Homo sapiens: one gene and its partner. The protein of the gene in region 1 interacts with the protein of each later gene in a pairwise test. Each region holds a gene or a part of one and is shown in the gene's direction. Other genes may lie near its edges.

Region 1 (11,062 bases):
CCCGGATTCAAGCGATTCTCCTGCCTCAGCCTCTGGAGTAGCTGGGACTACAGGCATGTGCCACCACACCCGGCTAATTTTGTATTTTTAGTAGAGACAGGGTTTCTCCATGTTGGTCAGGCTGGTCTCGAACTCCTGACCTCAGGTGATCCACCCGCCTCGGCCTCCCAAAGTGCTGAGATTACAGGCATGAGCCACCACTCCTGGCCAGGACTGGTATCTTATACAGATAATTTCTTTATTTTCGAGACGGAGTTTTGCTCTTGTCGCCCACACTGGAGGGCAATGGCATGATCTCAGCTCACTGCAACCTCCGCCTCCTTAGTTCAAGCAATTCTCCTGCATCAGCCTCCCCACTGGCTAGGATTACAGGTGCACGCTACCAAGCCCAGCTAATTTTTATATTTTTACTAGAGATGGGGTTTCACCATGTTGGCCAGGCTGTTCTTGAACTCCTGACCTCTGGTGATTGGCCCACCTCAGCCTCCCAAAGTGCTGGGATTACAGGCTTGAGCCACTGTGCTCGGCCTATACAGATAATTTCCCAGTTTAACTTCTAAGCCATCTAATTACCCTATATTTTCTTGACTTTTAGAAAAAATTATATATTTTATTTTATTTTTAAATTTTTAAAAATTATATATTTTAAATTAAGACATTTGAAGGGCGGGCGCAGTGGCTCACACCTGTAATCCCAGCACTTTGGGAGGCCGAGGTAGCCAGACTGCCTGAGGTCAGGAGTTGGAGAACAGCCTGCCTAACATCGTGAAACCCTGTCTCTACTAAAAATACAAAAAAATTAGCCGAGCCTGGTGGCACATGCCTGTTGTCCCAGCTACTCAGAAGGCTGAGGCAGGAGACTCGCTTCAATCTGGGAAGCAAAAGTTGCAGTGAGCCAAGATTGCGCCACTGCACTCCAGCCTGGGCGACAGAGTGAAACTCTATCTCAAAAAAAAATTTGATATGTAGTCACAGATCATTCATATATACGTACACAAATATTCAGGAATATATATATTGTAAAGTTTTATCACTAACTCCCTCCACTCCTCTACACACATATAGGTAGCTACTATTAGGATTTTCTCTTTTTTTTTTTTTTGAAATGGAGTCTTGCTGTGTCGCCCAGGCTGGAGTGCAATGCTGCGATCTCAGCTCACTGCAAGCTCTGCCTCCTGGGTTCACGCCATTCTCCTGCCTCAGCCTCCCAAGTAGCTGGGACTACAGGCACCCGCCACCACGCCCAGCTAATTTTTTGTATTTTTAGTAGAGACGGGGTTTCACCGTGTTAGCCAGGATGGTCTCGATCTCCTGACCTCGTGATCTGCCTGCCTCGGCCTCCCAAAATGCTGGGATTACAGGCGTGAGCCACCGAGCCTGGCCACTATTAGGATATTCCTGTGGCAAACATAAGCAAAGGTGAATATAGCAAATCTGTATCCTCATCCCCACTGCCTTTTTTTTTTTTTTTTTAGTGGAGTCGCTCTGTCACCCAGGCTGGAATGCAGTGGTGGCATGATCTTGGCTCACTGCAACCTCTGCCTCCTGGGTTCAAGCCATACTCCTGCCTCGGCCTCCCAGGTTGCTGGGATTACAAGCATACACCACCATGCCTGGCTAATTTTTGTATTTTTAGTAGAGACAGTGTTTCACTGTGTTGGCCAGGCTGGTCTTGAACTTGTGACCTTAAGTGATCCATATGCTTCAGACTCCCAAAGTGCTGGGATTACAGGCATGAGCCACTGTGCGCTGTCCCCCGCCCCCACTTTCTTTCTTTCTTTCTTTCTTTTTTTGGAGGTAGGGTTTGCTCTGTTGCTCAGGCTGTAATGCAGTGCTACAATTATGGCTCACTGCATCCTCTACCTCCTAGGCTCAAGCAATCCTCCCACCTCAGCCTCCCAAGTAGCTGGGACCACAGGTACCCCACCATACCTGGCTAATTTATTTGTTTATTTTTGGTAGACATGGGATCTCCCTATGTTGCCCAGACCGTTTTGTTTGTTTGTTTGTTTGTGACAGAATTTTGCTCTTATTGCCCAGGCTGGATGCAATGGCAGGATCTCAGCTCGCTGCAACCACTGCCTCCCGGGTTCAAGAGATTCTCCTGCCTCAGCCTCTGGAGTAGCTGGGATTACAGGTGCCTGCCACCACTCTTGGCTAAGTTTTTGTATTTTTAGTACAGACGGGATTTCACCATGTTGGCCAGGCTGGTCTCCAACTCCTGACCTCAGGTGATCCACCTGCCTCGGCCTCCCAAAGTGTAGGGATTACAGGTGTGAGCCACTGCCCCCAGCCCCCAGACTGGTCTTGAACTCCTGGGCTCAAGAGATCCTCCCAGTTAGACCGCTGTGCTGTTGGCTGAAATACCAATAATGAAGTAGCTGACAAGGTCTTAAGCTTTCAGTATGTTACCATGTTGAGGACCTAATATTCAACTTTATAAGACCCTATCAAGTGGGGTTGGCTATTTTCTTTTTACAAATGAAGATGCCAAATCATTACCCCATTTTACACACATGCAAAATAAGGTATGGAAATTTAAATGATGCCCAGGGATGTAGTATTCCAACTTGTCCCTTCCAAGTTGCTTAAATAATGATCCTGCACATAGAGGGCAGAAAGCTGAACTGTGTCCCAGTACAGTCACAGTGAATGATATTTCCTCAGCTGTCTATCCCACAGGACTGCGAGTCTCTGGAGGATAGGAATGTGTCTTATGCAGCATTATGGCCTATCACGGTACCTGGCATATAACAAATGACCTATTTTTGGAAAGCTTTGGAACCTGAGTCATGGTGGATGCCATTGCAGAAAACAATTTTGCTATTTTTGTGTTTCATAAACCACTTGAGTATCTTGAATATTTATGACTTTATTTTGCTTTTCCAGAATGAATATGCTGATTACTAATTTTGATCACTAACCACGCAGTCATCATTTCCAAACACACAGCTCACTTAGCCTAGAACAACCGTGTGGGTCTTTAAATCATTTTGCAGATGATGAAATGGATTCAGAGAGGTTAAGTAGCTCGCCCAAGGTTGCATAGCTAGTGAACATCAGAGCCAGGTAAGTCTGACCCCAAAGCCAGTAGTCTGTCCACTCAAATATGTCTACATGTCACCTACTTCTGGAAAACCTCAAGGGAAGCTCAACCTCTGATCATAGCACATAACTCAATTCAGAGTGAGATAGCTGAAGGCAGGCTGTAACCAGTATTGTCAATATTTGGCACTTTCAATGTCCAGTGTTTTGATGACCCTGGATATTTGAGAAGGAAATAACACAAAACATGTTTCTCATTTACAGGGGTTGCTTTCTAAGTTGTGACTAATCCTTAAGTCCACCTATAATTTGTACTGTTTTGTTCCAAATGCCAAAAGCTTCTACAAGGGCTACAATGCTGATGTGCTAACATTGACCTTGATACCTTGATGATGTAATATTGAGACATATATCAGTATTTGCTGGTCACTTCCTGAGAAGTTGGATTTCAGTGAATCTCTGGGGAGCCCTTAAAATAAACTAGGGTATTTTGTTCAATAGTAAAAGTTAGGTATTTAATATTAAAGGAACCAGAAAGTGAGTGAGCAGTGTTAGATGTAACATATATCTTCTTCATCCATTAATTCAATAGATATTTGAGTCTCTATTATCTGCCAGCAGTATTTAGGGACTGGGGATATACAAGTAAACAAAACAGACAAAAATTCCTATCTGTTTGGAACTTACATTCAGTGGGAAGAGACAAACACAATGAAAGGTAAAACATAAGTCAGATAGTAGCAGGAAGTCTTTTTTTTTTTTTTTTTTTTTGAGATGGAGTCTTGCTCTTTCTCCCAGGCTGGAGTGCAGTGGTGCCATCTCCACTCAATGCAACCTCTCCTGCCTCAGCCTCCCGAGTAGCTGGGATTACAGGCGCCTGCCACCACGCCTGGTTAATTTTTTGTATTTTTAGAAGAGATGGGGTTTCACCATGTTAGCCTGGCTGGTCTTGAACTCCCGACCTCAGGTGATCCAACCACCTCAGCCTCCCAAAGTGCTGGGATTACAGGCGTGAGCCACCGCGCCTGGCCAAGTGGTATGAAGTCTTTTGGAGAAAAGTAATGCAGGGAAAAGGAGCAGAGAATGCTGGGATGTGCGTGCAAGTTTTTTTTTTTTTTTTTTGATGGAGTTTTGCTCCTGTTGCCTACGCTGGTGTGCAATGGTGCGATCTCGGCTCACTGCAACCTCCGCCTCCTGGGTTCAAGCGATTCTCCTGTTCAGCCTCTGGACTAGCTGGGATTACAAGCGTGCGCCACTACGCCTGGCTAATTTCGTATTTTTAGTAGAGACGGGGATTCTCCATGTTGGTCAGGCTGGTCTCGAACGCCCACGACCTCAGGTGATCCACCCGCCTCGGCCTCCCAAAGTGCTGGGATTACAGGCGTGAGGCACGGCGCCCGGCCTGGACTTCTTACATTAGCTATCAGAGCGGTGATGGTGCGCATCAGCCATGGCCAGGGACAGGAATATAGGGAGATGATAATAAAGGTGGTAATGAAGTCACGGCCACCTGCCCTTATGAAGTCAAAATCATTAAAGACCCAGTGACGTTCATGCCATCCAGGGTTGAGGCCTCTCTTCTGCCCACCTGTGGTCCCAGGCCTAGTTAAACACCAAAGCTGTCTCTCACACTGGTGGTTCCAGGATAAAGCCTCGGCCTGGGGCCTGGTCTGCACGTTAGGCGCCGGCCGCAGCTCGCAGGAGGACCCGAGCCAGCCCGCCCCTTCCCGCACAGCCTGCTGGGAGTTGTAGTTCAGTCGTCGGAGAACCACGCCAAGCCCCGCCCCAGATGAGTGCGCAGTATGAGGACCGCTGGCCGGGACCCAGTGAGCGCGGGACTACAATTCCCAAAGGACGGTAGCACTCAGCGCCCCGCCAACAGGTACCCGGCGGCTCGCTTCGCGCACACGCGGCAGGCGGTGGCGGGATTCTGCCGCGTGCGCTTTCCCGCCCCGCCTCGCCTAGCCTCGTCCTGCGCTCGCCACGCCTCGGGCTGTCCGTTGGGCCACGCAGACCGCGCTGCGCTCGCTCCGTCGCGGCTCCGCGTGCCCCACCTTCTGGCTAGTTTTTTCTAGAGCCCAGGCTCCGCCCGTTTCCCGCTTCCAGGGCCCGGTTCGTTCCCGCCCGCACCCGTCCCTCTCCTCTGCACCCCTGCTGCTTCTGCTTTGAAGGCGGAGGCTCCATGTTGTCCCCTCAGCGAGTGGCAGCAGCTGCCTCAAGAGGAGCAGGTGAGGCGCCGATTTTCCCTGGATCGCCCCGCGGCCACCCCCGCCGCCTTCCCTGCTGTAGTTCTGAAAAGAACCCCCGCCCGCGCCGCCGCCCTTCCTCGTCCCGGGGCTGGGACCGCGCGTCCCTCGCCGGGGTCACTCGGTTTCCGAATTTGTGGTGGGGGGGCCCCTCTTCGGGCCCAGCTGGTCCAGCGAGGGCGGCACCTTCCTTACTTTTCGGCCGGGGGCGGCCGCCGTCAGGGCTCGGGCCCTGGTGCCGCCGGGGGCTCCTCCAGCTCCTCCCCTGGGCTGCAGCTGCCCCTGGGCGGCCCAAGGGCCGGTGGTCCCCGTGGGCGGCGTCCGGAGCTTCGGCCCCGCCGAGCCCCGCCCTGGGCAGAGCCGGGCGCCCCAGGGCGCTGCCCCTCCGTGCCCGGGCACTCAGCGCCCTCTCTGGTCGGAGAATCGGGGCCTGGATGGAGCGGGAAGGTGAATGCTGGTTTATTTGGCCTTTCTGGAAGTGCTGGAAGGCTGCGAAGTGTCTTGGAAGCTTTATTTTTATCCTAACGACCTTGAGGCACTGACCACAAGTATTAGGAAAGTTGGTTTTCAACCCATACTTAACGCTGTAAAGAATTGGTCTAAATTGGTTTTTCGTAAGTTAGTGCTTTTGGCACAGTACGTTGTTCTTTTGCTTTCCCGAAGACATGAAACATAGTGAAAGTATTAAAAACCAAATAAGGAGTCACCGTGTATTCACGGATCTGATTTAGTCTGTCATTTTACTTGGCTTTATTCTAGTGTAATGTGTGTGCTGTTGAAATGACCGTTTCACTTGCGAAATCGAAGAGCAAAAAGGAAAAGAACAGTGAAGAATTTTTAAATGAGTCTCAGTTCTCAAATTCAAATACGAAGCAATGGAACGTTTTGTCAGTCTTAGAATAACGGACCAAAAATGTACGATTTCACATATTGGCTTACTTTTGGAGATTTAAGAAGCATAACCTACGGAGTACTAATCCCTGTCAAGAATTTAGCATTGCAACATAGGTACTGAAATTCAAATTAGTGCTTTTTTTTTTCCATTCCCACAGAGATTAGCTTGTACTCCAGAAATTCCTGTTGCCGCTCTAACACCTGTAAACACTTGGCTGAGAAGGATCTCAGTATTGCAGTAGTCCAGCACATTGTTTTATTATTATTTTTTGAGACGGAGTTTTGCTCTGGTCACCCAGGCTGGAGTGCAATGGCGCGATCTCGGCTGATTGCAACCTCCGCTTCCTGGGTTCAAGCAATTCTTCTGCCTCATCCTCCCGGGTAGCTGGGATTACAGGCGCTCTCCACCATGCGCGGCTATTTTTTTTTGAGACGGAGTTTCGTTTTTGCTACCTAAACTGGAGTACAGTGGCGCAGTCTCGGCTCACTGCACCCTCCGCCTCCTGGGTTCAAATGATTCTCCTGCGTCAGCCTCCCGAGTAGCTGGGATTATAGACATCCGCCACCAGGCCCAGCTAATTTTTTGTATTTTTAGTAGAAACGGGGTTTCACCACGTTGGCCAGGCTGGTCTCGAACTCCTGACCTCAGGTGAACCACCCTCCTCTCCTCGGCCTCCCAAGTACTGGGATTACAGGCGTGAGCCATCGTGCCCGGCCCATTATTGTATTAGCTACAGTTTACTACCTCATTGTAGTAGAATTCATGAAATAGAAGTAACGGGATAGATGTGGTGTTGTGTACTAGCTTAATTTTCTTTTTCTTTTCTTTTTTTTTCTTCTGGTGAGAAGGAGTCTTGCTCTCTCGCCCAGGGTGGAGTGCAATGGCGCGATCTCTGCTCACTGCAACCTCCGCCTCCCAGGTTCAAGCGATTCTCCTGCCGCAGCCTCCCAGGTAGCTGGGATTACAGGCGCCCTCCACCGCGCCTGGGTAATTTTTGTATTTTTAGTAGAGACGGGGTTTCACCATGTTTGCCAGGCTGATCTTGAACTCCTGACCTCAGGTGATCCTCCTAGCTCGGCCTCCCAAAGTGCTGGGATTGCAGGTGTGAGCCACGGCGCCTGGCCCAGTTGCGTGGTATTTCGATTGTCAGAACACCTTAGATATATTTCACAGCTGAAGTATGTTAACAGATTAGAAGACAGGCTTTCCTGGTATAGTAGGCGCTAATTAGGAAATCCTTACTTGGCCGGGAGCTGTGGTTTACTCCTGTAATCCCAGCATTTTGGGAGGCTGAGGCAGGTGGATCACCTGAGGTCAGGAGTTCAAGACCAGCCTGGCCAACATGGTGAGACGCCCCCCCCCACCCAAAAAAAAATTAAAAAAAAGTTAGCCAACGTGGTGTTGCAGGCCTGTAGTTCTGGCTACTCAGGAGGCTGAGGTGAGAGGATGGAGTGAGCCCAGGAAGTTGGCTGCAGTGAGCCTTTTTTTTTTTCTTTTTTCTGCAGTGAGCCTTGTTCTTGCCACTGCACTCCAGCCTAGGCAACAGAGTGAGACCTTGTCTCAAAAAAAAAAAAAAAAAAAAAAAAGGAACACAGCTAATTCAAACCTTTGGTGGCATTCTTATTCTTAGGAAAGAGATACAAAAGTGTTACTGAGCTCATTCCATTAAAAAGGTTTTTTTCCTCCACTTGTGATATAGCCTGGCATCATTTTCAGATTCAGCCCTCTCCTTGGATTTTCTGAATCTTCAGTACCATTTAGTCATAGATAATTTTTGTAAACCTATGAAGCATTACACAATCCTTAGTCAACAACAAAAAATATGGTTTTGTTCAGCCTTCTGTGCTATGGCGAAAAGATTTTCTACAACAGACAAATATAAAATTTGCCCAGTATTCTGGTTAATTAGATTTAAATAGTATTTTCACTGAAACAGCCTTAAGCGTATTGCAGTGTATCTACTGGCACAATCACTGCCTTAAGACAAAACGGTATATAAAAGCACCCACCCCTCCACCACCAGAAGGAACCACACCCAGCAGTTCTAGAGTTGGCTAAGGTCTTAGTATACTTACTCTTGCCTGTGATGATGTTTTCTCTGGCTTTGTCAGTTAGAAACCTTAAAGACTGCCAGCAAGAACAAGGCATGAAAATGGTATGCCTCTGTTTTGGGTGTGTTGCTCTTGCCCTTTGGAGAATATGATATTTTATAAGGAGACTGGAAAACTCAGGTCATAACTTTACCCTGAGTCATACATGAATCTACTCAGCAAAGTGTTTCTGTGACTGGTTGGTTACTTTGTATTCAGAACTCTTTGAATGGTAAGGATAAACACCAAGGCTGACTCTACTCAGTGGTTCTTAACCTATGGTAATATTGCCTCTTCCTGCCCCTGGAGCATTTAGCAATGACTGGAGACGTTTTTTGGGTGTTAGAACCTGTTGTGGGGAGTGTTACTGGTATCTAGTGGGTAGAGGCCAGGGATGCTGCTCAATAGCCTGTAGTGCGTAGGATAGCCCCCCACAACAGTTGTGCAGCTCCAATGTCAATATGTCAGTAGTGCTGAGGTTGAGAAACCCTAGTCTACACTGTCATTTTTTTTTTTTTTTTTTGATACAGAGTCTCGCTCTGTCACCCAGGCTGGAGTGCAATGGCGCGATCTCAGCTCACTGCAGCCTCCATCTCCCAAGTTCAAGTGATTCTCCTGCTTCAGCCTCCCGAGTAGCTGGGACTGCAGTCATGCACCACCACGCCTGGCCAATTTTTTTGAATTTTCAGTAGAGTCAGGGTTCCACTATATCGGTCAGGCTGGTCTCAAACTCTTGGCTGCAAATGATCCATCCGCCTTGGCCTCCCAAAGTGGTGGGATTACAGGCGTGAGCCATTGCACCCGGCCCACTTCTCAGGAATCCTAAACTCTTGGGAGGCTGAGGTGGGAGAATCACTTGAACCTGGGAGGTGGAGGTTGCAGTGAGCAGGAATGACGCCACTGCTCACCAGCCTGGGCGACAGAGCAAGAATCTGTCTCAAAAAAAAAAAAATGCTTTCTAATTATACAAAGATTTTCAACATTTTCTACATACTTGAACTGATGAGTGATAGAATATTATCATGAGCTATTTACAGCAATGAAGTAGTCCCCATTATCTGAGGGGCATATATTGTAAGGCCCCCAGTGGATGCCTGAAACTGCTGATAGCACTGAGCCCTGTATACACTACGTTGATCAGTGAGAAGGCTACTAAATAACTAATGGGCATGGTAGCATATACAGTGTGGATACTCTGGAAAAGGGAATGATTCATGTCCCAGGCAGGATAGCACAAGATTTCATCATGGTACTAAGAACTGCGTTGCAATCTTAAGACTTACGAATTGTTTATTTCTGGAATTTTAAACATATGTTGTAAATTCACATAAATACATATGAATGATAGATGTAACAGTGGTCCAGCTGTAGCTTTGTGTCTGTGCAAAAACATCACGTTATCCATATTCATGTAAGTAATGTAATACAGCATTAACTGTTGTTGCAGTATGCAGAATTAGACCTTGGAAAATAATTGCTTCTCTAAAGGGACAAGGCATGTAAAGTTGCCACTTACAGATATTTTTAGTACCCTCCCCGGAGACTAGATCTCCAGAGTTTAAGATTCCTGACAAGTGGACCGGGCACGGTGGCTCATGCCTGTAATCCCAGCACTTTGAGAGTCTGAGGTGGATAGATCACTTGATCGCACGGTGTGCGATCCACCCCCCTCGGCCTCCCAAAGTGCTGGGATTACATGCATGAGCCACCACACCCAGTTAGCACTTGACCCATTTTAGTGATGAAACTGAAAACTAGACATGCCCAGGATCACACAGGTTGTTAGTGGCAGGGCTGGAACAGGAACTTGTGTTTTGAGTCCTAAATTTGTATATTTCCACAGGTTACTTCTGAGAGTAAGCAGGTGAATCTGTCCCTTAGGCAGTTGTACATTTAGACTAAATGCAAGTTAGAGATCTGTGAAGTTGTATCATCCAAATAGAGGGTAGGCCGGGCGCGGTGGCTCACGCCTGTAATCCCAGTACTTGGGGAGGCTGAGGCGGGTGGATCACCTGAGGTCAGGAGTTCGAGACCAGCCTGGCCAAGGTGGTGAAACGCCACCTCTACTAAAAATACAAAAATTAGGCGTGGTGGTGGGTACCTGTAATCCCAGCTACTTAGGAGGCTGAGGCAGGAGAATTGCTTGAACCCAGGAGGCAGAGGTTGCAGTGAGATGATACTGGGAGGCTGAGGTGGGAGGATTGCCTGAGCCCGGTAGGTTGAGGCTGCAGTGAACCATGATTGCACCACCGCACCTCTAGCCTGTGCAACAGAGTGAGACCCAGTCTTAAAAAAGGTGTAATATATAAGCAGCTCCATTTAACTTGCATTATTGGTGTGTACAGCTCAAAATAATTCTTCCCTTACATAAGCCCAAACCCAAGGATCACTGTCAGTGAACAACATCTTTTTTTTTTTTTGAGACAGGGTCTTGCTCTGTTGTCCTGATTGTAGTGCAGTGGTTGACTTACTGCAACCTCTGCCTCCCAGGTTCAAGTGATACCAAGTAGCTGGGATTACAGGCGCGTTACCACCAAGCCTGGTTAATTTTCATATTTTTAGTAGAGATGGGGTTTCGCCGTGTTGCCCAGGCTGGTCTCGAACTCCTGATCTCAGGTGATCTGCCTGCCTCAACCTCCCAAAAGTGCTAGGATTATAGGCGAGACCTCCCATGCCTGGCCAACAAGATCTTTTTTAATCTGGTGGGTGTTGATAATCATGCTTATATTACTGGTGTGAAGAGAAATGCAGAATCACCCCAGCTCTTCCAACTAAACAGAGCCTGG
Region 2 (11,262 bases), on another chromosome or scaffold:
GGTCTCGATCTCTTGACCTTGTGATCCGCCCGCCTCGGCCTCCCAAAATGCTGGAATTACAGGCGTGAGCCACCACGCCTGGCCCTGTTCTTTCTGCTGGAGAGACAGTTTAGGGTCTTGACTAAGCATGTGCATGTATAAGCCACTGCCTGGGTTCAAATCCCAGCTCTTCCATTTACTTGCTGTGTAACATTGGGCAAGTTGCTTAGCCTCTGTGTGTCTCAAGTTTCTCATCTGTTAAATGGAATGATAACAGGGCTTACTCAGAAGGTGGTTGTGAAGATTGAACAGGTGTCTTGTACTGGGGAAGTGTTGAGTAGATATTAGTTATCATCACTACACTGTGGAGAAACTTCGTAAACATGACAGAGCTGGTACTTCTGAGGAAGCATTTTAAGACTTGAAAAATATTCATCTAACAACTTCAGTAGCAGTGGACGTTTACACCTCCCTTCCCTGGAGTGGGGTCTCTGCATTCTCTTGAAATAGAATAGGGGCAAGAAAAGTTATAAACAAACAGATGGCTGGGCCTCACCCCAGAAATTCCGAGTCAGTTATCTGGAGTGGGGCCTGGATATGTAGTTTTTTTAAAAAAGACTTTCTTACTTTGAAATAGTTTTATATATATATACACATATATATATATATATATATATATTTTTTTTTTTTTTTGAGACAGAGTCTTGTTATGTAACCCAGGCTGAAATGCAGTGGCGTGATCTCGGCTCACTGCAACCTCTGCCTCCTGTGTTCAGGCGATTCTCGTGCCTCAGCCTCCAGAGTAGCTGGGATTACAGGCATGTGCCACCATGTCCAGCTAATTTTTGTATTTTTAGTAGAGATGAGGTTTCATCATGTTGGCCAGGCTGGTCTCGAACTTCAGCCTCAGGTGATCTGCCTGCCTTGGCCTCCCAAAGTGCTGGGATTGCAGGCATGAGCCACCGCACCCAGCCTGAAATAGTTTTAAACTTAAAGAAGTACAGGAATAATACCAAGAATGCCTTTTACCCAGATAGAACAATTATTAACATTTTGCCATGTTGGCTTCGTCTATCTCTCTACATATACATATTCTTTTCTTTTTCCTAAACCATTTGAAAGTAAGTTGCAAACGTGACTTAATACTTCAGCGTGTATTTCCTAAGAACAAGGACATTCTCTTAAATATCCACAGAGCTGTAATCAAAATTAGGAAACTTAACGTTGATAACTAATGTATAATTCGTAATCGGATTTTACCAGTTGTATTAATAAAGTTCTTTTTCTTCTTTTATTAATTTTTTTCCTTTTTTCTTTTTTTTTTTTTACTTTTTGAGACGGAGTTTTGCTCTGTCATCCAGGCTGGAATGCAGTGGCATGATCATGGCTCACTGCAGCCTCAACCTCCTGGACTCAAGTGATCCTTCTGCCTCAGCCTCCTGAGTAGCTGGGACCACAGGCACATGCACCATACCCTGCTAATTAAAACAATTTTTTTGTAGAGATAGGGTCTCATTGTCTTGCCCAGGCTGGCCTTGAATTCCTGGGCTCTAGCAATCCTCCTGCTTCAGCCTCCCAAAGTGCTGGGACTACAGGTGTGAGCCAGTGTGGGTGTCCTAATAAAGTTCTTTGTATCAGTTTCCCTGATCTGGGATCCAATTCAGGATTATACATCATGTTTAATTTTTTTATGTCTCTTTAGTCTTCTTTAATCTGGAGCAGTTCCTCAGTCCTTGTTTCTTGTGACCTTGACATTTTTGAATAGTACAAGCTTATTATTTTGTAGAATCTCCCTAATTTTTGGATTGTTTGGTTCCTTGTGATCAGATTTAGAGTGTGACAAGTGATGTGTCATGTTCAGTACATCCGTATCAGGAGGCACCTGATGTCAGGAAATACTGACTTTGATCACTTGGTTAAGGCATCCATACTGTAAATTATCATTTTACTCTTCATTAGTAGTAATTTGAGGGGAGATACTTTGAGACTATGTAAATATCTTGTTCCTCATCAAACATTTATCCACTGCTTTAAAAATCCATTGATGGGTCTTGCCTTAATCAGTTTATTACTATGATGGTTGCAAAGATGATCTTCTAATTATTCTATCGACATTTTTTTAGCTGGCTTTCTACTATAAGGAAGCTCTTTCTTACTATTATCAGTATGAACTCATAGATTTATATTTTATTTGATGAGTTAGAATCTATTACTATCATTATTTATTTTGATCTCAAATTGTCCTAGATTTGGCCAGTAGGAGCTCTTTTGAGTTGGCTCTTGTTTGCATTGGTCCCTGTCATTTTTGAATGCTTCCTTTATGGTACAACAGGATGGTCAAATTCATCTTATACTTCCCTGCCCCAGCCCTGGAATCAGCTTATCTCCATGTTTCCTGGTTTCCCTTCAGAAACCCAGATCTGGGTTCAGATTGTGCTCATGGCTTCTGTGGTTCATCCATGTTTAAAAAAACAACAACCAGAACTCCCCAAGTGAGTCTGTTTCACATCCCAGGTAGAGAATATCATGCCATTTATTCTGACAGCTGCTGTGTACCCGTGAGGTGGGTCCTCTGATCCTCATTTTATAGATAAAGAAGCCACAGCCCTGGAGAATTTCAGTAGCCTGCCTGACATCAACAGTTAGAAGACCAAAGCAGGAACATTTATACTGTTTCCACCTCAGCAAGAGGCTCCAAAAAGGGGACTGAAATGTAGCTGGGGTGGCTTAGCCAGGCCTGTTTCTCCCATGCTCTCTCGACTCCTCTCTCTTTAAGCACATGGTGAGTGTGTTTAAAGAGATTGACCATCCCTAGCCAACTGTACCTGCAAGGCCCCAGGCTCCACTTCCCAGGGCTTCTGTCCTGCCCACTCACCAAAGCCCCTGTGTCTGTAGCTTGATCCAGCTGGAGGCCTTCCTGAGCCGCCTGTGCTGCACATGTGAAGCCGCCTACCGCGTGCTGCACTGGGAGAACCCCGTCGTGTCCTCACAGTGAGTGACCCCTCCTCTCCCGCCACCACCCTATAGGAATTTGCAGCTTGAGCCCGAGCAAAGCCAGCTGCCTTGAGAGGACCTCTGCCCCTCTTACCTCAGGGGAAGAGCTCGCCTCCTGGGCTCTTGTGTGTATATCTGCACATATGCTTGCGGGCTCTAATGTACTGCTTTTGTTTAGATGCTTGCTTTTATGTGTGGTAAAAATAATAATAGAAAAATAACTCACCATATAATCCACCATGCAGCCGAATCTCTTGTTTGTTTTGCCTGCTAGAATTTGTCACATGCATCTACTTTACGGATGTATAGTTTCATAGTGTATGTTCAATTTTTCTTTTGTTTTCCACTTATCATTATATTAAAGATGATTTTCTTTGTTGCTATATAGCTTTTGGAATTATTTATAATACCAGATTAATATAGATGGCAAATATAATTTGTGAAACCATTCTGTTACAGATTTAGTCAATTTCCCTTTTCATTACTAACCCCATGGTAAACATTTTTATGGATTTAGCTTTAATGTTTTAGAAAATTTTTCTTGGAGTAAATTCAAGGATGAAACTACCATATCAAACAGAATGGGTGTTTTTGAGGCTCTTTAATATGAATAATAGTGATAACTAATGTTTGTTGTGTTCACCTGGTGCCAGGCACTGCTCAACACTCCCTCTGTATTATCTCACTCTTATAGTAACTCTATTAGGTAGGCGCTACTTCAGTCCCCATCTTACACGGGAAGGGAGCTGTGCCCAGAGAACCAAGAGACTTCTCAGAATGAGAAGTGGCAGAGCTGGATTCAAATCCCAGTCTGTCTTACTCTAGACTTCAGAGTCTAGACCTTAAGGAGTGATGATGGTTGAACCAGTTTATGTGCCACCAGCTGACACCACTTTGGCCTCACCAGCATCAGGTGTTTGCACCGGTGACTTGGGATAGTTCTCAGTCTTCATCGCCATTTTCCGCTGGTTTGATGAGCGGCTCTTGTCAGTTTATTAATGTGCCCAGAGCTGTGTCTCACCTGGACCCTGCTGTGGGTGTGCTCCAAACCCGTCTCCTTCTGCTGTTACGAATTTCTGATCTTGTGGTTCTTCCCTGTCATCCAGGTTCTATGGGGCTCTTCTGGGCACAGTCTGCATGCTGTATTTGCTGCCACTCTGCTGGGTTCTCACCCTTTTAAACAGCACGCTCTTTCTGGGGAATGTGGAGTTCTTCCGAGGTAAGCCCTGAAGGGCCTGAAAGATGGGGCCCAAGCTGGCTCTGAGGGCTAGGCTAGGCTCCCCAGTTCTTCTGTCTCTACAGCTAATCATCAGTTTGCTGTGCTTCCACAAGTGCAACACCACACTGGGGTCCTCTCTCATGGGCTCTGCATCTCTGAGATGTTAGATGAAGCTGGAATCTCACCAGGGGAGGCTGCTACCATTGGGCTCCCATCTCCCTTCGCTCCCTTCCCAAGGCAGATGAATCACTGCTTATATGATATGATGGCTTCTGGAAGATGAGGGAAGGATGTTTTTCCCAAAGCTGCCACCCATCCCCTGGGGTGCAGCCACCTGGAGTTGCTACCACATCTCTGTGTGATCCCAGAATACCCCTCTGTTGTCTGGCTTCTAAAGCGCTGAGGCAGTCTGGAGAGGCACTGAGTCGCAGAGGCCCGAGTCTGTACATATGTTTGGGTGATTGCTGTATTTGTTTTCCTCCCTGTGGTAGAGTTATTTATTACAGAAGCCATGATTTATTGAGCATTTACTACATTTAATCTCTGTAGCTGTCTGGGGCAGGTGGTGGTATCTAAGTTTTGTTTAAGAGGCTTAAGTTAGGTGACTCGCTCAGAGTTAGGAGGGTGACTCTTTCCTGTAGTGAAGGGAAGAGAGGCCAGCCAGCTGCAGAAGTGGGTACCCCTAAAGTGCCACTCACGGTGTCTCATTTTTGCCTCCTACCTTGTTCTCCATTCCCTGGGTAGTTGTGTCTGAGTACAGGGCATCTCTGCAGCAGAGGATGAACCCAAAGCAGGAAGAGCATGCCTTTGAGAGTCCTCCACCACCAGATGTTGGGGGGAAGGATGGTCTGATGGACAGCACGCCTGCCCTCACACCCACGGAGGTAAGTGCCACTGTCAGGGCAGAGCCTGCTGTGGCCGCTTGTGGGCCCCCCTGTTATCAGCTTGTTTTTGGCTCCTGGGCTGGCCTCTGTTGTAGTTCCTGCTATTTCCCAGGCCTTAACTCCCCTGAAGTGTTCAATAATAATAATTGTAATAAAAACAGCTACTCCATGCTTCACTGAGTGCTTACCCTGTGTCAGATGCTGCTCCAAGTGCTTTATAGATAGATATTCACATCATGGAGTGCAGGTTCTTTCTTTCCTTTTCTTTTTTTTTTTTCCTTTTTTTTTGAGATAAGGCCTCCCTCTGTCACCCAGGCTAGAGGGCAGTGGGGCAATCACAGCTCACTACAACCTCCATCTCCTGGGCTCAGGCAGTCCTCCCACCTCAGCCTCTTGGGTAGCTGGGACTGCAGGCAGGTGCCACCACGCCCAGCTAATTTTTTTGTATTTTTAGTAAAGATGAGGTTTTGCCATGTTGCCCAGGCTGGTCTCAAACTCCTGGGCTCAAGTGATGTGCCTGCCTCGGCCTCCCAAAGTGCTGGGATTACAGGCGTGAGCCACTGCACCAGGCTGGTTATTTCTGAGAAAGAGATCATTCTCATTTGTGGAAGAGAAGGCTGAGGCACAGAGTGGCTGGTAAGTGGCAGGGCTGGGTCTAAGACCCCAGCCCTGTGGTTCTAGAGCTCGTGCCTTCAACCACTGTGCGATGTGGCCACTGTAGGGCCAGCTGTGCTCGTGTTTCCATCTCCCCCGCCCTGCCAGGCTAGAGGTTGCTCCTTCCTGTGAGTTCCTTCTTTCTTGCCATTGTGCCATTTCGTGGTGTTTTGGGTAGCCTGGATGCTGGCTTGGGGAGGTGGTCCTCTGCCTTAGGGAGCAGCGCTGCCATCCTTCTCCTTCTGTCATAGAGTCTCTCTTCCCAGGACCTCACACCGGGCAGCGTGGAGGAGGCTGAGGAGGCTGAGCCAGATGAAGAGTTTAAAGATGCGATTGAGGTGGGTGGCCCTTCCCCAGCATCCTCTACTCAGCAGGCCAGAAATTGGGTGGTCCTGGAGCTGTTTTTTGTTTTTGTTTTTTAATGTCCAAGTGAGAAGCTAAAACTTGCTGTGAGCTAGAACTCACTGGTTGAAAGAGTGCCACTGAACCCCTCCCCACTCCTGTTTCTGGTTGAGCCAGCTGTCCTGGGTGCCCAGGGCAAGAGTGGCTCTGGAAGTCTCCGGGTAATGCCCTGCTAGGGGAGCTGGACGATTTCTGGCCTTTGCTGGAGACCGTGGGCTTGGTGCCTTTGATATAGGAAAGGCAGCTTTTGAGGAGGCTACTGCCCTGGGTCTCCGCTCTTCTGCAGAGTGAGTTCCGTAAGATGTCCCTTTGCGGGGCTGGGAGGGGAGGTTGGAGAAAGTAGTTGCATGGCCAAGTGCTAGGTCAGAGGAAGTTAAACAGCTTTCTTGATTTTAGGATGGTAATTCAAATTGGTAGTTTGCAGAAGTGTTTTATTTGGCATGCAAAGTTTCAAAATAATTTTTTGAGCCAATGTTTAAATATGGAGAGATTTTTATTAGAACTGCAGGTTTCCAGTTTCTCTGGTAGTCCTGAGTCTGCAGCAGTAGGTGTAGCTAAGGAGCTGCTGTCCCCTTTACGCAGGTCACATGCTGTGGCTACAGGTGGTCCTCAACACCCCCTGCTGTATTTTGTCACTGAGGTCAAGTGGGAGTTGCCATTTGTCACATTTGCGTTTTTGTTTTTCTTAGAGTAGGATATCATTTCTCTTTATTTATTTCTCTTTGTAAAGTGGGAAATTGAGATATAAGAAAAACACCTCGTGGATTTCCACCAGGCCTGTGATTTACCCCAACTCACCTCAATCATACATCAGCCCAGGCCATGCAGGCATTTGACTTTCTGATGGCTAAAAGATTGCTCCAAAACTTTGATATATGATTGTAGACCGTGAATCTTGGTGGAGGGAATATGTAGAGCAGGGGTTTTCAAGCATTTTTGTTCATGACCCATAGTAAGGAACACATTTTGCATCTTGACCCAGGTCACACTTAGGTCTATAAAATATGTAAAACTTAAGTGAAACAAAAGTTTCCGGAAAATACGTTGTAAGGGATATTTTCTTTCCTTTTCTGTTCTATTCAAATAAAGACCTACTAAATTATTTTCACCCAGTTTGAGAAACTGTAGTACCTAGCTTTCTCCAAGGCTGTTTGATGCTGGGATCCTCTTGTGGGGGGCGTCTGTCAATGTCACCATTTGGGAAGTGCGCAGAGCTCAGAGCAGCGCTTCCATGCTTCCTTCTGCTTGGGGGCCCCTCCAGGTAGCTTCTTTCTTCTTGCTATCTTTTTCTTTCTGTTTTCTCTCCTCTTCCCCGCACCTTGGGAGGCAGGAGACCCACTTGGTGGTGCTGGTAAGTGGAAGCCTTGGTGGGTGGGCAGGGGCTGGGCTGGGGAGGGTGGCTGAACCGGCTGCTGCCACACCTCGTGGGGGCTGCCGCGCAGGATGCCTCTGCACACGGGTCCTGCAGCCTTGCAAGAGGTGGGCAGGACTGGAAGGAGCTGTTCCCACAGGAGGATGATGAGGGCGCCCCGTGCCCAGCAGAGGATGAGCTGGCCCTGCAGGACAACGGGTTCCTGAGCAAGAATGAGGTGCTGCGCAGCAAGGTGTCTCGGCTCACGGAGCGGCTCCGCAAGCGCTACCCCACCAACAACTTCGGTGCGGCCAGGGGACAGGGCTGGGCTGGTGGGGGAGTGGGGGTGGACTTCTGGGACTCTAGTGGGGAACACCCAGCCACAGGGGCAGAGTCTCAGAACTGTGGGTACTGACTTGTGACAAGAGCAGGGAGTGAAGGTGTGTCCGCGGGACCCCGGGGAGCTAGCAGATGCCCGGCAGGACTGCTGAGGGAGTGGGTGTGGGTTCCTTCTTGTCCCTCCATCCTGATTGGACATTCAGTTGTGGGAAGACAAGGAACTCAGTTTGGGAAATGCCATCCCAGGACTGTAGAGAACCATAATCCTGACAGAACTTCAGAAGGCAGTGTAGCATGATGGTGAGGAACAGAGTAGAGTCTCACTGCCTGCTGCAAATCCCAGCTCAGCCAGGTGTCCTTGAGCAAATTATTTCACACCCCGTGCCTCAGTTTCCCCTTCTGTAAAAGGGGGATCATCATTCTTACCTCATAGGGTTGTTACAGGTCTCATGTCAAATGAGACAGTAGTACTTACGAAGGGCTAGCACAGTGCTGGTTGGTTCATAGTAAGTAGTGGGTGCGGTTAATGTGGGAGGCCCTGACCCACGCTGTGGGTTCCTAGGATCCTGTCTTGGTCTTTCTTATCCAGCTGGAAGCAAGTTGAAGCAAACATTGTTTCTCTGGACGTGATAGAGCCCTGAGTTCACCTCTCCCCAGCCAGTCCTTATTTTACTGAGGGTCGGGGGAGAGCGGTCAAGGAAGGCAGCTTTGGAGAAGGGTGGACTTGACAGCACAGCTTAGAGACCTGGCTCAGATCAGCAGCGCTGAGAGCTGAGCCACATACAATTATGGTGGAAACCTAGAGTAGCTAGGTTGACCTGGGAGCTGCTGTGCTCCTGAGGAAGGGCCCTCCTGCCTGCTGTCAGATGGGAGCAGGGTAAGGGGGCAGTACTGTGTGTTCTGGTGTTGAGTGAGTTCTAGGGTCTGTGCCCTGGAAGAAGACAATGGAGTTTATCTTGAGGAATTTGACTCAGGGCCCCCAGGGTCCTGCCTTCCTACCCCTGCAGCAGCCAGGGCAGTTGTTTTCTCAGGATTAGATGTCCTGGACAGGCTCTTTCTTTCTGCTGTGTGAATGTCCCCCAGTTATTCAAGATCCCTTTTTTTTTTTTTTTTTGAGACAAGGTCTCACTGTGTCTCCCAGGCTGGAGTGCAGTGGCATGATCACAGCTCACTGCATCCTCGACTTCCTGGGCTCAAGTGATCCTCACAGCTCAGCCTCCCGAGTAGCTGGGACTACAGGCATGTAGCACCATGCCTGGCTAATTTTTGAATTTTTTTTGTAGAGACAGGGTCTTACTTTGTTCCTCAGGCTGGTCTTGAACTCTTGGGTTTAAGTGATTCTTGTACCTTGGTCTTCCAAAGTGTTAGGATTACAAGTGTGAGCCACCACGCCCGGCCCCTTTGTTTTATTTATGCTGCCTGCTGACTTCTGCAGGGCATTCTGTATGTTCAGTGATCTGTTTACCCTCCATACTTGCACATGTGTGATCTCATTTCATCCTTACCGTAGGTGTGACAGGAGCAGGCAGTTCTTAAGGGTTCAGAGCAGCCAGATTCCAGCAGTGCCCGGTAACACTACACACAAGAAGTATTACTCTGGTCCAGCAAATAATTTGTCTATTTCTACAACTTCTAAGTAAAGGTACTTAGCTGTTCCCATTTTACAGATGAATAACCTGAGGTAAAAAGAGTGCTTTGCCCAGAGACTTTGGCCTGGAAATGGTGGAGCTGTGACTCAAATTCAGGTTGTCTGATTCGGCTCTTGTCTTCTTTCTACCTCTTCATCCTCCCTCTCTGTTTTCCCTTTGCCCTTGCGTGTGAAGTCCCTTGTTTTATGCCTGTCCCGCTTTTGTATTTGATTTTTGGTTTGGATAATCTCTACCAGCATGGGCAGAGGCCTTTTCAGCCTCCCTCAAGGATGGCAAGGGCAGAAAGTGCTTCTTTTCCTAAACTCCTCTTAGTTCCTCATCCTTCAAGACCACTTGCTACTTTCCCTTTTCTGAGATGTTCCCAAGCTCTTTGCCATGAGGGCAGGTGTAGCAGCTCTGCTCCTGCGGCCTCTGCTCCTGAACCTGGGTCCTGAGAGCAGGGCGAGGGGAGCTGCTTTGGGGGCTTTCTCCATTTCAGCGACTATAACGAAATACACTAAGCTGGGGGGCTTTTAAATAATGGAAATCTCTCATCACAGTTCTGGAGGCTGGAAGTCCAAGATCAGGGTGTCAGCAGGATCAGGTTCTGGTGAGGTCCATTTCCGTCGTCATAGACAGCACCTTCTCACTGTGTCCTCATGAGAAGGTGGGAGGGGCACGGCAGTTCTCTGGGGCCTCTTTTATAAGGGCACTAATCCCATTCACGAGGGCTCCACCCTCATGACCCGGTCACCTCCCAGGGGCCCTGCTTTGGGTGTTAGGATTCCACATGTGAATGTTAGGGGACTGTGGTGGGGGCTATTCTATTTACCCCTGCCAGTGGATGAGGGGGTGCATGGGGAGAATGAGGGCAGACTGCAAAGGAGCTTCTCTGTGGCCTCCGTATGGGAGAGGTCTTGGTGGGGAGGGCCCCCCTTTGTCCTGGAGGCTCCATGACTGTTGCCCTGGCAGGCCCCACTGGGCCTTAGTGCCCCTGCTGTCATGGCCTCGGTGGCATCGTCACGTGGTGAGTGAGGATGGGTGAGTCCAGGCTGTTGCTGAGAAGGGGCAGAAAGAGTTGGTAGGTGTTGGAAGGGAACGTCACCTGGCTGAGCTGCTCTCAGCTCCCAGAGCCCTCCCTGGCTCCGGTCTGTGAGTGGGTTCACAGCTGTCTCCCCAGCCCACTTGGCTGCCCTGGGGTGCTTGGCCCTGACATTCCATTCAGTTTAGAGGAGACCTTGGGCTCAGGTCAGTGTCAGTCTTTGAGTAGCTCCTTTTGCCTGTCCCATTCCCCTTGTGTCCCTTGCTAAGGAGAGGCTGGGGCAGGCTGCCTTCCCCAAATTCTTGGTGTAGGGACAGAATCTTGGAGCAGCCAGTTTCCTGGTTTGGCACCAGCAGTAGGCTTGTTCTTCTCTTTCCCTGGCTGACTGACAGGGTGGGCATTTACCTGAAGCACCTTGGCCTCAGATTTCCCCTGGCTCTAGCAGAGGTCTTCCTTTCCCTGAACCTAGGGAGTCTCCTTTAGCAAGAACTTCAGGTGATTTTGGCTGGACAGAGGAAGGGACCACATGTAGCCGTCAATAAAGCTTTGGGGCCTTTCTGTGAAAGTGAGGCCTGGTGCTCTGTACTTGCCCAGACAGGTGGTCCGGCTGGGTCATAGCAGGCCTATGGGCCCCACATCCCAGAAACCTCATTCTCTGTCTCTCCTCTCCCCTTACACCCCCTTGTTGTCTTCTAGCCATTTTCTAAGCTGCCGTTGCCCCTCCACTGTTGCCGGGCACTTGGCCATCTTGGCATCTCTGGTGGTTTAGG

The links.
Region 2: the proteins of ATL3 (region 1) and ZFYVE27 interact in binary tests that used the Homo sapiens proteins (3 or more experiments, as listed by UniProt).

What each region holds. Positions count from the first base shown.
Region 1 is NC_000011.10:63,665,501-63,676,562, reverse strand, and holds the start of ATL3 (atlastin-3), read left to right. Parts: upstream 1-5,227; coding exon 5,228-5,273; intron 5,274-11,062. UniProt on the Homo sapiens protein: Atlastin-3 (ATL3) is a membrane-anchored GTPase that mediates the GTP-dependent fusion of endoplasmic reticulum (ER) membranes, maintaining the continuous ER network. It facilitates the formation of three-way junctions where ER tubules intersect.
Region 2 is NC_000010.11:97,745,395-97,756,656, forward strand, and holds part of ZFYVE27 (protrudin), read left to right. Parts: intron 1-2,874; coding exon 2,875-2,970; intron 2,971-4,079; coding exon 4,080-4,192; intron 4,193-4,936; coding exon 4,937-5,076; intron 5,077-5,981; coding exon of another isoform or gene 5,982-5,996; coding exon 5,997-6,068; intron 6,069-7,462; coding exon 7,463-7,483; intron 7,484-7,643; coding exon 7,644-7,788; intron 7,789-9,332; coding exon of another isoform or gene 9,333-9,358; exon of another isoform or gene 9,359-11,262. UniProt on the Homo sapiens protein: Key regulator of RAB11-dependent vesicular trafficking during neurite extension through polarized membrane transport. Promotes axonal elongation and contributes to the establishment of neuronal cell polarity.